2 separate regions of the Homo sapiens genome follow, and region 2 is linked to region 1. Evidence: fine-mapped expression QTL. A gene starts in region 1. The other region holds a variant in brackets. All regions are shown on one strand. Distances are from middle to middle. Region 1 holds the start of PPP1R14B (protein phosphatase 1 regulatory inhibitor subunit 14B). Region 2 overlaps PRDX5 (peroxiredoxin 5).

Region 1 (5,361 bases):
CTCTAGACCTCATTGGGAAAACAGAACCATGCAAGGTGGAGCTTGGCCTCTGCCCTCACAGGCTGGAGTTCAAATCCGGCTCTTGCTAGCAGCCTCTTGCTAGTGGCAGAACCTAGTCTCTCTAGGTGCCTCAGTCACCTTGTCCAGAACCTAAAGGTTGTTGTATACATAAGCAAATGGGTGGGAGATGCCAAATTGACATGAGTAGCTGGAAGCTGTGGGTATACCAGGGAGGGAGGAAAGGGCATAGGTCAGCTCTGGGGCAGTGGAACCTCCAGCTTGTGCCAGGGCTAGCAAAGCCTGGAGCCAAGGCCTGAGCTTAGGGGATCTGAGCTGTGGGCCCTAGGCCTTGTGCAAGCGTACTTTAGAGAAGCATTGGGCAGCAGCTCCTTGTGGAAAAAAACAGGATGGGCACCTGTTTCCTGGGCTTAAGCCTCTCTCCTCCCCCAACCCTGTGTCTCTGGAGGCCAGGGCAGCCCCCATTACAGGGCTCCTTCCTTCCCAGACACTTTCTTCCATCCTTGGTAATGGTAATAGGGTATCTCAGCAGGCAGTAATGGTGAAGGCAGGCAGCCTTTCCGGACTCTACCCTTGATTGAAGGAGCGGTCTTGACCCACAGGACCCTCCCCAGAGCCTCTGCTTCAAGGATGCACTCTAATGGAGGGGGGCTGGGGCCCTGGAAGGGGTAGGGCTGGGGAGGCCACAGACTGAGGCTAGAAGGAGGAGGAGCAGTGGTACACTCCAGTCCCAGTAGGGCTCAGGCAGGAGGGCCAGGGCTGGGCATGGGCCCCCAACCACAGGAGGTCAGGACCATAAGCCCCCTGAAGAGGCTCTGAGCAGGTAAGTGACTTGCATACAGCCTCTCAGCCCATGGGGCAGAGCCAGGATTTGAACCCAGTATTTCTACTCCAAGGCTAAGGTTCTGTGGCCCAGCTTCCAAGAAGGTGGCAGGCCAGCATGCCCACCTGCACCAAGTGGTCTCGGGTGGATAGCCATGGGAACTGGACAGGAATCTGGGTGTGCCTGGGCATGGCGCGGTGGGGGGAAGAGGGAGAGTCAGAAAGAATGCCTGACCTGTGGACACGGACATGGCTGGAGACCTTCACACCAACCCTGAGGGAGGACAGACAGAAAGGTCAGGGCTCAGGGTCACAGCATCTTGGGGGCAGAGCTAGGGCTGGGGGTCTTCATGGCCTGCAGGCCCCACTTCCACAGAAGCTGTTGGGCATTAGGGGCTGTTTGAGGGTCTTCCCCCTTTAATCTGTGTGCACCCTCAAGGTACAAACAATGCTTGGGTTCAGAGGGAGCTGGCCTGGCCTGGTGGGGTGTGGTGGGGAATTTGGACTGGGGTAAAGTGATCCTCCTATCAGGCCAGGCTTAGGGCAGGAGGCCAGGCCACGGATAGGGCTCCCGGTGGAGAGGGTGGATCCTACCTAATCCGCAAGAGCGAGGGTCAGCCCTTCCTCGGCACCCAGACTGGCTGAAGGGAGGCTGAGGCCGGAGGAGGGGCACGGGAAGGGGAGGGGTCAGCTCACTCTACCCTTCCCTGAACTGAGCCCTGTGAGCCCATTGCCTTCACAATGCCCAGCCTCTGTCTTCTCTTGGTCTCTTCTCTCTGACTATAGGGCAAAGGAGGAGCCCAACATCCTGGGTTGGAGTTTGGATGCAGCCCCAGCTGTGTGACCCCGGGGCCAATCCCAATCCATCTCTGAACCCCACCCGCTGCAGAGGGCTTCCCCCCACAACATCCAAAGAGTGTCTTTGAGGGGCTGGAGCAGAAACATTGCCTCTCAGATCCAAGACCCTGTTTGGGGTGGCACAAGGTGAGCCTGCCTTCCACAGAAACATCCCCCGGGAGCTGCGCAGCCTTATTGGGTGGTGTCTACAGGGTAGTGAGGAGGTTGAGTAGAGACTTCGTGTCAGGGGGTTTGAGCCACACAGCCTGGGTTCAAAGTCTCGTCTCCCGTTTTATCTAGCAGTGCGACTTAATTAACCTCTGTGGTGTAGTAATTGAACTTTCCACGAATTTTCCTATTTAATCTTTGTTACAGCCTTCTGAGGAAATGCAGGCACAGAGGAAGACATTCATTCTTTCAAAATCATTTGTTCAACCAATGCAGCGGCCTACTACGAGTGTGACATAGTTCTAGGTGCTGGAGTTCAGCGGGAGCCAGGTAATTTGCCTAATAGCAGTGGATTTGAAGACTGTTCAAGCCTGGTAGCACCAGCAGACCAGGTCGGCGCAGGCCTCAGCCCCGTGGCACTCACAATCTAGAAGTGGGAGACAGACAATACACGAATGAATGAGACCATTTAAAGATGCAGAAAATAAAATAGAGGGAGGGAATGGGATGCGCCGTCGGCTTATTGGAGGTGGGCCAGGGCTATGTGAAGGACCGAGGAGCCGCAGGGCGGGGGTGCAGGAGCCCCGGCACGGCGCCCTCTCTGCGGAGCCGACTGGGCGGCGGTCCCGACGCACGCTCCTAGGGTCAGCCGCAATTACCGCCTTTATTATTATAAGTCGCGGCCCCCGCACTGCCCAGCTCTTTGCGCCTTAGTTTCCCCCTCTGTGCGCACTCGGGTCGCGAGGCGCAGAGGACGCCCCAAACAACTTTGCGCTTCCCGGCCTGGCCGCAGGGCGGGGGAGGGGCGGCGCCGGGAGCGGACTCCGTTTCCCACAAGCCCGAGCCTCGCGCCATCTTGCCGGTGGGCGGTGGCTGCCCGGGGTTGGCCGTTTGGGCCGGCCGGGTGCCACCGCTCACCCCCAGCCCCGGCTTCTTCCGCTGGGGGCGTGGGACCTGCTACTCGGAGAGTCTAGGGACCCGGACAGCTCCTGCCCGCCTTCTCCACTCTTCCTTTCCCAGGAGCCCAGTCCACGTGTCGGTCCGTGCGGAGGAGCCCGTTCGCTCCTCGCTGGCCGAGGGCTGGAGGACCTGGACATCGGGGACCGCAGCGTCTCCTCACCAGACTCCCTGTCTGCACACGATGTCCACTCCCCTGCATTCTCAGATAGCCCCTATTCTCAGATGGCCTCAATGAGGACAGAATGAGGAAGGGTCCAATGAAGACTAGGGTCCTGGCGTGAGCGCAAATCGTCGTCCTGAGCGCTTAGAACGCCTGGGTTTGGGACTGGAAGGTTGCGTTTGGGGAGTACGGACAGCTAGGCCACCCCCTGCCGAATAGACCCTCCCCTACCCCTGCCCGGGGGCGGAGTAGGGGAGAGGGGCCTGTAGAGGGGCTGGCCCTTTAAGGGGGTGTGGTCGGGGGGCGGAGGAAGAGCGAGACAGAGAAAGCGCTTCGGCGGCTGCAGCTCGGGCGGCGGCCGCGGGGGACAAAGGGCGGGCGGATCGGCGGGGAGGGGGCGGGGCGCGGCCAGGCCAAGCCCGGGGGCTCCGCATGCTGCAGCTGCCCCCGGGCGCCCCCGCCGCCGCCCTCGCCGCGGAGCCGCGCGGAGCGGAGCCGGCGAGCTAACCCGAGCCAGCCGGCGGGCGTCCCGGAGGCGGTGGCGCAGGGAGGGGCCCGACGCTCGCACGTGGCCCCGGCGGCCGCCATGGCGGACAGCGGCACCGCGGGGGGCGCGGCGTTGGCGGCCCCGGCCCCCGGGCCGGGCAGTGGCGGCCCAGGACCACGCGTCTACTTTCAGAGCCCCCCCGGGGCCGCAGGAGAGGGCCCGGGCGGGGCGGACGATGAGGGCCCAGTGAGGCGCCAAGGGAAGGTCACCGTCAAGTATGACCGCAAGGAGCTACGGAAGCGCCTCAACCTAGAGGAGTGGATCCTGGAGCAGCTCACGCGCCTCTACGACTGCCAGGTGTGTTCCCACCCCGCGCCGACACCCCAAAATCGGTCTCGCGCCGGTCCGCCTGGCAGCTCCACTGTGAGCTCGCCTGTCACTGGAGTCAAAGGGCGCTTTGCTTCCCCGCGCGCTCCCCTCCCCTCTGCACTCCCGCCCCCAATATATACTCTTTCTTGCCTGACCTAAGTCACTTCTGCCTTCTCCGTTGCCTCGGACCCTGCCCCCCATCATGCCACTCCCCAGGTCAAGCCTAGTGTCCTCCAGACGCCTCAAGGGGTAGCCTGAGCCTTGGGCAAGAGGCAAGGGGGCTATCCTGGGCTGGCAGCGGCAGGAGGTCTCACCGCCTGGTGCCCGCTGGGTTAGACTGTGGTTACAAGGTGCTGGTCTGGTAGGACGGCTGCGGCTGGGCTGTTCTGTGGGCTAGCCTGGAGCTCCATCTTGGCGTGCGTGCAGGCTAGCCCGCTTTCTGGGCTCTGCTTCTCCACCCCCATGACTCCCTGGTTGTTCAGACGGTGACTCAGGCCCCGGGGGGCAGGGTGGAGGAGTGGGTTTGCCCGGTGCTGCCTGCCTACCCTAGCCCAGCCCTGGAATGCAGCTGACTACAAACAGGATAGGGGCTTCCTGGGGAGGGTGTGGCAGGGTGGTGGGCATCCCCTCCCTCACCAAAGCATGGGCTCTTTGTTTCCTCTTTGCCAGGCCTGGGTCCTTCCCAGTGACCCCTCAGCCTTCACTTCCTCCTCACTCCCGGGGAGCTGTGACAGGTGTTTGGGGGAGGGGAGGGGGGTATGATAAGCTGGGACAGCTGCACCCACCGGTGCTCTGGTGAGATGGGGGGCCCGGATGTTGGGGAGACACATCTGCTGGGTTCCCAGCCCAAGGTCCCCAACCCTGGCTGTCTGGCCTTGTCTGTCACCCCCCGTGCCCACTGGCAGGGACAGGAAGCTCCCCCCCCCACCCCGCTTTGGGCAGTTTGCCTTGGCACGGGCCTGATCTGTTTTCCTCCCCAGAGCAGCTGCTGTTCTGTCTGCTGGGCAGAGGGCTGGGTTCCTCCGAGGTAGGCAGGGGCCTCAACCCAGAGCCCCTCTCACACCCTCTCTCCAACTCAGGCTTATGTCTCTCCCTCCTCCCCCACCCCCACCCCAGGAAGAGGAGATCCCAGAACTGGAGATTGACGTGGATGAGCTCCTGGACATGGAGAGTGACGATGCCCGGGCTGCCAGGGTCAAGGTGAGGGGGCTGGGGGGCGATGGGTTGCCTGAGGCACTGCCCCGGGAAAGTGAGGCTGTGGAGCCAGGCCCTCAAGCCCCAGCTCCTGCCTCAACAGAATGGGGCCAATGCCTAGCTGTGAGGTTGTTGTGGCATCTCCTGTGCCTCAGGGTGGCCCCAGTCTCTTGGAAGTGGGTATAGGCGAGCTCCAGGCCCCCACTCCTGAGGACTCACTTATCCTTCCTCCCCCATCCTCTGCTAGGAGCTGCTGGTTGACTGTTACAAACCCACAGAGGTAAGAGATTTCCTGGGGGGCTGGCGGGGGTGGCAGGGTGAGGGGAGCCCGGCTCCTGTCATCTTG
Region 2 (5,361 bases), 76 kb before region 1:
CTCCTGTCTCAGCCTCCCAAGTAGCTGGGACTACAGGCATGGCACCACCATGCCTGGCTAATTTTGTATTTTTAGTAGAGATGGGGTTTCACCATGTTGGCCAGGCTGGTCTCAAACTCCTGACCTCAGGTGATCCGCCCACCTCAGCCTCCCAAAGTGCTAGGATTACAGGCGTGAGCCACCATGCCTGGCCTGATTTTTATCTTTCAAATAACCTTTTATTGAGCCTTTTTTTTTTTTTTTTTTTTTTGAGGCAGGGTCTTGCTCTATTACCCAGGCTGGAGTGCAGTGGCATAATCATAACTCACTGCAGTCTTGGCCTCCTGGGCTCAAGTGATTTTCCCAACTCAGCCTCTGGAGTAGCTCGAACTATAGGCACGTGCTACCACACCCACCCAATTATTTTATTTTTTTGGTAGAGACGGGGTGTCACTAATTTATTTTTATTTAGTTGTTTTTGTTTTGGGTTTTTTTTTTTTTGAGACAGAGTTTGGCTCTTGTTGCCCAGGCTGGAGTGCAGTGGTGAGATCTTGGCTCACCAAAACCTCCGCCTCCCAGGTTCAAGTGATTCTTCTGCCTCAGCCGCCCGAGTAGCTGGGATTACAGGCATGAGCCACCACACCTGGCTAATTTTGTATTTTTAGTAGAGACGGGGTTTCTCCATGTTGGTTAGGCTGGTCTCGAACTCCCGACCTCAGGTGATCCGCCCACCTCAGCCTCCCAAAGTGCTGGGATTATAGGTGTGAGCCACCACACCCGGCCTATTTTTATTTTTTTAGAGACAAGGTCTCGCTCTGTCACCCAGGCTGGAGGGTAGTGGCACGATTATAGCTCACTAACTGTAGTTAGTCACCAACTCCTGGTGTCAAGCGATCCTCCCGCCTCAGCCTCCTGAGTAGCTACGACCACAGGCATGCACTACGACAACTTATTTATATATTTACTTATTTATTTATTTATTTATTTTGTAGGGACGGTGTCTTGCTATGTTGTCCAAGCTGGTCTCAAACTGGCCTGAATCAATGCTTCCACCTCAGCTGCCAGAGGAACCGGGATTACAGGCCTGAGCCACTGCAGCCAGCCAGTTTGTTATTTTAATGTAAATTCTTAGTAAACAACTCAGGAGCTCTCTTGTCCTTTTAAAATCCATTTCAACTTCTGCTAATCGGAGTGTATATTCAGGGCAACTTGAATCTGTGCTCCTGGGATGCAATCCTCAAGCTTGGCCCAAATAAAGTCTCCGCTGATATTAATTTTGCCTAGGCTTCTTCCTTTTAGGTCAACACTCTTCAGGCTCATGTTGGGGTCTGTTCAGCTGCGTTTCAAAGGGACTCTAGACCCAGGAAGGCCCAGAACCACTGATGCTGAGTAACACCCTTGGCCTTCTGGTCTCAGTTGCTATGGCCTTGGGCATGCTAGGACAGGCAAGTGAGTTTCACTGGGGCATGTGTTGTTGGGTGGATGTTTCAGCTTCTTTTCTTTTTTTTTTTTTTTTTTTTTTTTTTGAGACAGACTCCTGCTCTGTCTCCCAGGCTGGCATGCAGTGGCACGATCTCGGCTCACTGCAACCTCCACCTCCCAGGTTCAAGCAATTCTCCTGCCTCAGCCTCCCTCCCCAGTAGCCGGGATTACAGACATGCGCCACCATGCCCAAGTAATTTTTGTATTTTTAGTAGATATGGGATTTCTCCATGTTGGCCAGGCTAGTCTCAAACTCCTGACCTAAAATGATCCACCCGCCTTGGCCTCCCACGGTGCTGGGATTACAGGTGTAAGCCACCCCGCCTGGCCTGTTATGTTTTTTAACATTGGTCTTTCGGCCACCAAGAGCCCAGGAAGGCCACACGCACAGCTCTGCCAGGTGCAGCCCAGATGTCCAGGGCTCTCTGGTCCAGGACACCGTGGCCTGGTCTGCCCTTATCTCCAGGCCTGAAGCCCCACCTGTCCAACCTGGAGACAGCTATGCAAGGTTCTCTTGCCAGGTGCTGTTTA[A/G]TCTTGGGCCCTCCAGGGCCTGGAGCAGCTTCCAGGGCCAGTCCTCCGTGCCCCCACCCAAGGACGTCCTCACTCCAGCAAGCTCAGCCACATGCTCAGCAGTCAGGGCCACTGAGGCCACAGCCCCACCGCCACCCACACCAGGCTGTCCTAGAGGGCCACCCCAGCCCTGGAAGCCCTCTCAACCCTTCCTAGAGGCCCAGCCAGTGGCAACAGACCTTGGAGGGGACACTTCCTCTAGAGGCCTTGCTTGGCCTCAGCCAGCCCAGATAATAGCCCAGGAGCAGAGGAAACAGGCAGCAGAGTGACAGAGACGGAGCTGGGCTTCCCCGATAGCAGGGAGCTGCCTGGGTAGCGTGGGGTGCACAGCCAGTGGGGTGGGCTATTTGCTACCACCACCCCCTATTTACTAATGGAGACACTCATTAGCTCACAGGTGCCCTGTAGGAAGCTCCACGTCTGTTTTCTCATTTGTATGATGAGAGGATAAAGAGGTGGTATCCGGGAAAGAAAGGGGCTTTGTGTTATGCGTGTCCATGAGGACAACACTGTACCCCCGAGTTTGGCAGGAGAGGAGAGGCAGGCAGTTTACCAGGGCAGCTCGAGGTGCAGTCAGCCTCCTTCCCTGCCCCCACCTGGGACCCCTGAAGGGGTGGCAGGTTGTGGGAGAGAACCACAGTGACAGAGGTTGGTGGGCAGCACGACTCGGGTAGGCTGAGCACCTGCAACCCTGGGCAGGGAGGCTGGCTCCCCTCCTACTGAGTGTCTGTTCTCACAGACGTGACCACAAGCACCCAGCCCCTCCACCTTCAGCAAGCAGCTCCCTGGATGCACCCTCCCTCCCAACACATCTCCACCTCCACCTCCTGGGCATTGCTGTCATCATGGGTCCTGCTCCCTGCTGCCCATCTGGTGCCTCTCCCAGCCTCCCAGCTTGGGGGCTGCACACGGTAGCCCATGGCCAAGGTGCCTGTAGGGTGGAAGGCAAGCTGCTCATCAGCTTCAGAGAGCCCACTGACCTCCAGGCATCCTCTCTTGTCCCCAACATTCCCCCCCTACTCCTGCTACCCACCTTGCTGCGGCAGCATGGGATTGTCCCACCCTCCACCCCTAGGGCTATGGGGCTCACCCCTAGGGCTATGGGCCTCCCTCCGCCTCCCACTTGAGGCGCCACTCCCACTGCCTCAAGGGTCATTTGCTCTATGAGGCCCTGCTTTGACCTTCTCCCTGACCTCTCAAGAGTGTGGCCTGCCTGAGTCAGCAGTGGGGGCTGACCCCTGGGGACCACTACGCAGGAAGTGCCTGGGAGCCAGGTATTGATGTGGTTCATGGCAGGGCAGCTCCACGCGGTGATGGAATGCGGACTCCCTGTAGGTGGCTGAGAGGCAGCAGCAGTCCACACCTCACCAATTCTTGTGAGGGCTGTTACCACACCTGGGGTGGGCAGGCAGGCAGCATCGCGCAGGGCACAGAGGCCCCCTAGACTCCACGCAGTGGGGCCTCACCATCACAGGCGTGGCTTCCCTGCACCAAGGGGCAGAGGCCCAGGAGCAGGGCCTGCCGTGGCAATGGCCCCCATCCCCACACCCTGCTGGTGTCCCCACTTGAGGCCCCTCACACCCAGCCACCACTGGTCAGGCCTCACCAGCATCTTCTCCCCTCCACAGCTCACCTAGACTCTTCCCCCAGGGAGCCCTCCTGGAATGAGCAAGTGCTGTGCCAGAGCCCCTCTCCCTGTCCATCAGATGGTCCTAAAGTGACCTGAGCTCTTCCTGGGATGAGGGTGTGCCCAGGAGGGGGTCAAGTCTGAAAGGATGGTGGGGCTGGGCCCCGGCAGGAATGCTGGGAGCCAAGCTTCCCGCCATGGGGTTTCCAGACTAAATGGCATCAGGCAGCACCCAGAGAGCAGGTACAAAGGCCACACTGTGCGCCACATGCCATCGGCCAGGCCTCGCCCTCTGTGCTGCCTCTGTGGGGAGCGCTTCTTCCCTTCCTCTTCAGATTGCTGGCTCCTTCTCAGTGCTCAGTAACACCTGCCTCAAGGCTGGGCACAGTGGCTCACACCTGTAATCCCAGCACTTTGGGGGGTGGAGGCGGGTGATCACCTGAGGTCAGGAGTTCGAGACCAGCCTGGCCAACATGGTGAAACCCCGTCTCTACCAAAAATACAAAAACTTAGTCGGGCGTGGTGGCAGACACCTGTAATCCCATCTACTGGGGAGTCTGAGGCAGGAAAATCGCTTGAACCTGGGAGGCAGAGGTTGTGGTGAGCCGAGATCATGCCACTGCACTCCAGCCTAGGGGACAGAGTGAAACTGTCTCAAAAAAAAAAAAAAAAAAAAACTTCCCTTGAAAGGCCCTCCCTAGCTCCCCCTTAATTAAGCAGGACCCCCTACATTCTCCCTTTCAGCCCATCTGCGCCCTCACCATTCTCACCCAGTCTGTGATGATGCCAGAATGCCTGGCGCTCAGCGAAACAGCCATTCATAACCAAGGAGATGGCCGCAAACCACAAGTGTTTATTGCAGAAATCTGGCCAACATTCCAATTGCAGGGCCCCAGCACAGGGCTGGGCAGGTGAGATAGGGAGGGGTGGAGGAAGTAATCTGGCCCAGGGCCTCAGAGCTGTGAGATGATATTGGGTGCCAGGCTGCAGGTGAGGCCTGTGCCATCTGGTTCCACATTCAGGGCCTTCACTATGCCATCCTGTACCACCATGGAGAACCTGCCGGAAAGAGGGGCCCAGCCAGCTGCATCAGCCTGGGCTTGGAGGCTGGGCATGGAGACAGGCAGTGAACAGCCAGGGGCCCAAGAGAACTCCAGAGAGGACTCCCCCCACAGAGGACTCTCCCCCACAGAGGACTCACCACCACACAGGACTCTCTCCACACAGAGGACTCTCCCCACAGAGAACTCTCCCCCACACAGGACTCTCTCCCCAGAGGACTCTCCCCTACAGAAGACTCTCCCCACACAGGACTCTCTCCCACACAGGACTCTCTCCACACAGAGGACTCTCCCCACAGAGGACTCTCCCCCACACAGGACTCTCCCCCACAGAGGACTCTCTCCACAGAGGACTCTCCCCACACAGGACTCTCCCCACAGACGACTCTCCCACACAGAGGACTCTCCCCCACAGACGACTCTTCCCACAGAGGACCCTCTCCACAGAGGACTCTCTCCCACAGAGGACTCTCTCCCACAGAGGACTCTCTCCACAGAGGACTCTCCACTTTTACCTCTTGAGACGTCGATTCCCAAAGATGGACACCAGCGAATCATCTAGTAATAAGTCTGTCTCCTAAGAAGAGACAGAGAAAAGTGTCAGAAATCCTTGAAGAGGCTAAGGGCCCCCACTGCTCCCCG

What was found. PIP is the estimated chance that this variant, and not a neighbour inherited with it, causes the effect.
Region 2: its variant is the best candidate, but not a certain one, in a credible set for the expression of PPP1R14B in stomach (GTEx, PIP 0.86).

The regions. Positions count from the first base shown.
Region 1 is chr11:64,244,864-64,250,224 of GRCh38, reverse strand. It overlaps PPP1R14B (protein phosphatase 1 regulatory inhibitor subunit 14B), which reads left to right and starts at 3,282. Exons shown (of 4, transcript NM_138689.3): 1 at 3,282-3,809; 2 at 4,938-5,021; 3 at 5,263-5,295. The coding sequence starts at 3,552. It overlaps PPP1R14B-AS1 (PPP1R14B antisense RNA 1), which reads right to left and starts at 4,359. Exons shown (of 2, transcript NR_135087.1): 1 at 4,136-4,359; 2 at 2,011-2,272. RefSeq lists enhancers at 1-550, 551-1,196, 1,197-1,844 and silencers at 2,569-2,708, 3,429-3,608.
Region 2 is chr11:64,320,942-64,326,302 of GRCh38, reverse strand. PRDX5 (peroxiredoxin 5) reads right to left here. Exons shown (of 6, transcript NM_012094.5): 5 at 5,235-5,296; 6 at 4,492-4,717. The coding sequence ends at 4,612. It overlaps LOC102723878 (a long non-coding RNA gene), which reads left to right. Exons shown (of 4, transcript NR_188518.1): 4 at 972-1,253. Among named protein-coding and RNA genes, the nearest start is that of PRDX5, 5.5 kb to the right of the region's middle. RefSeq lists a silencer at 811-963. The variant A/G (reference allele first, on the strand shown) is at 1,993.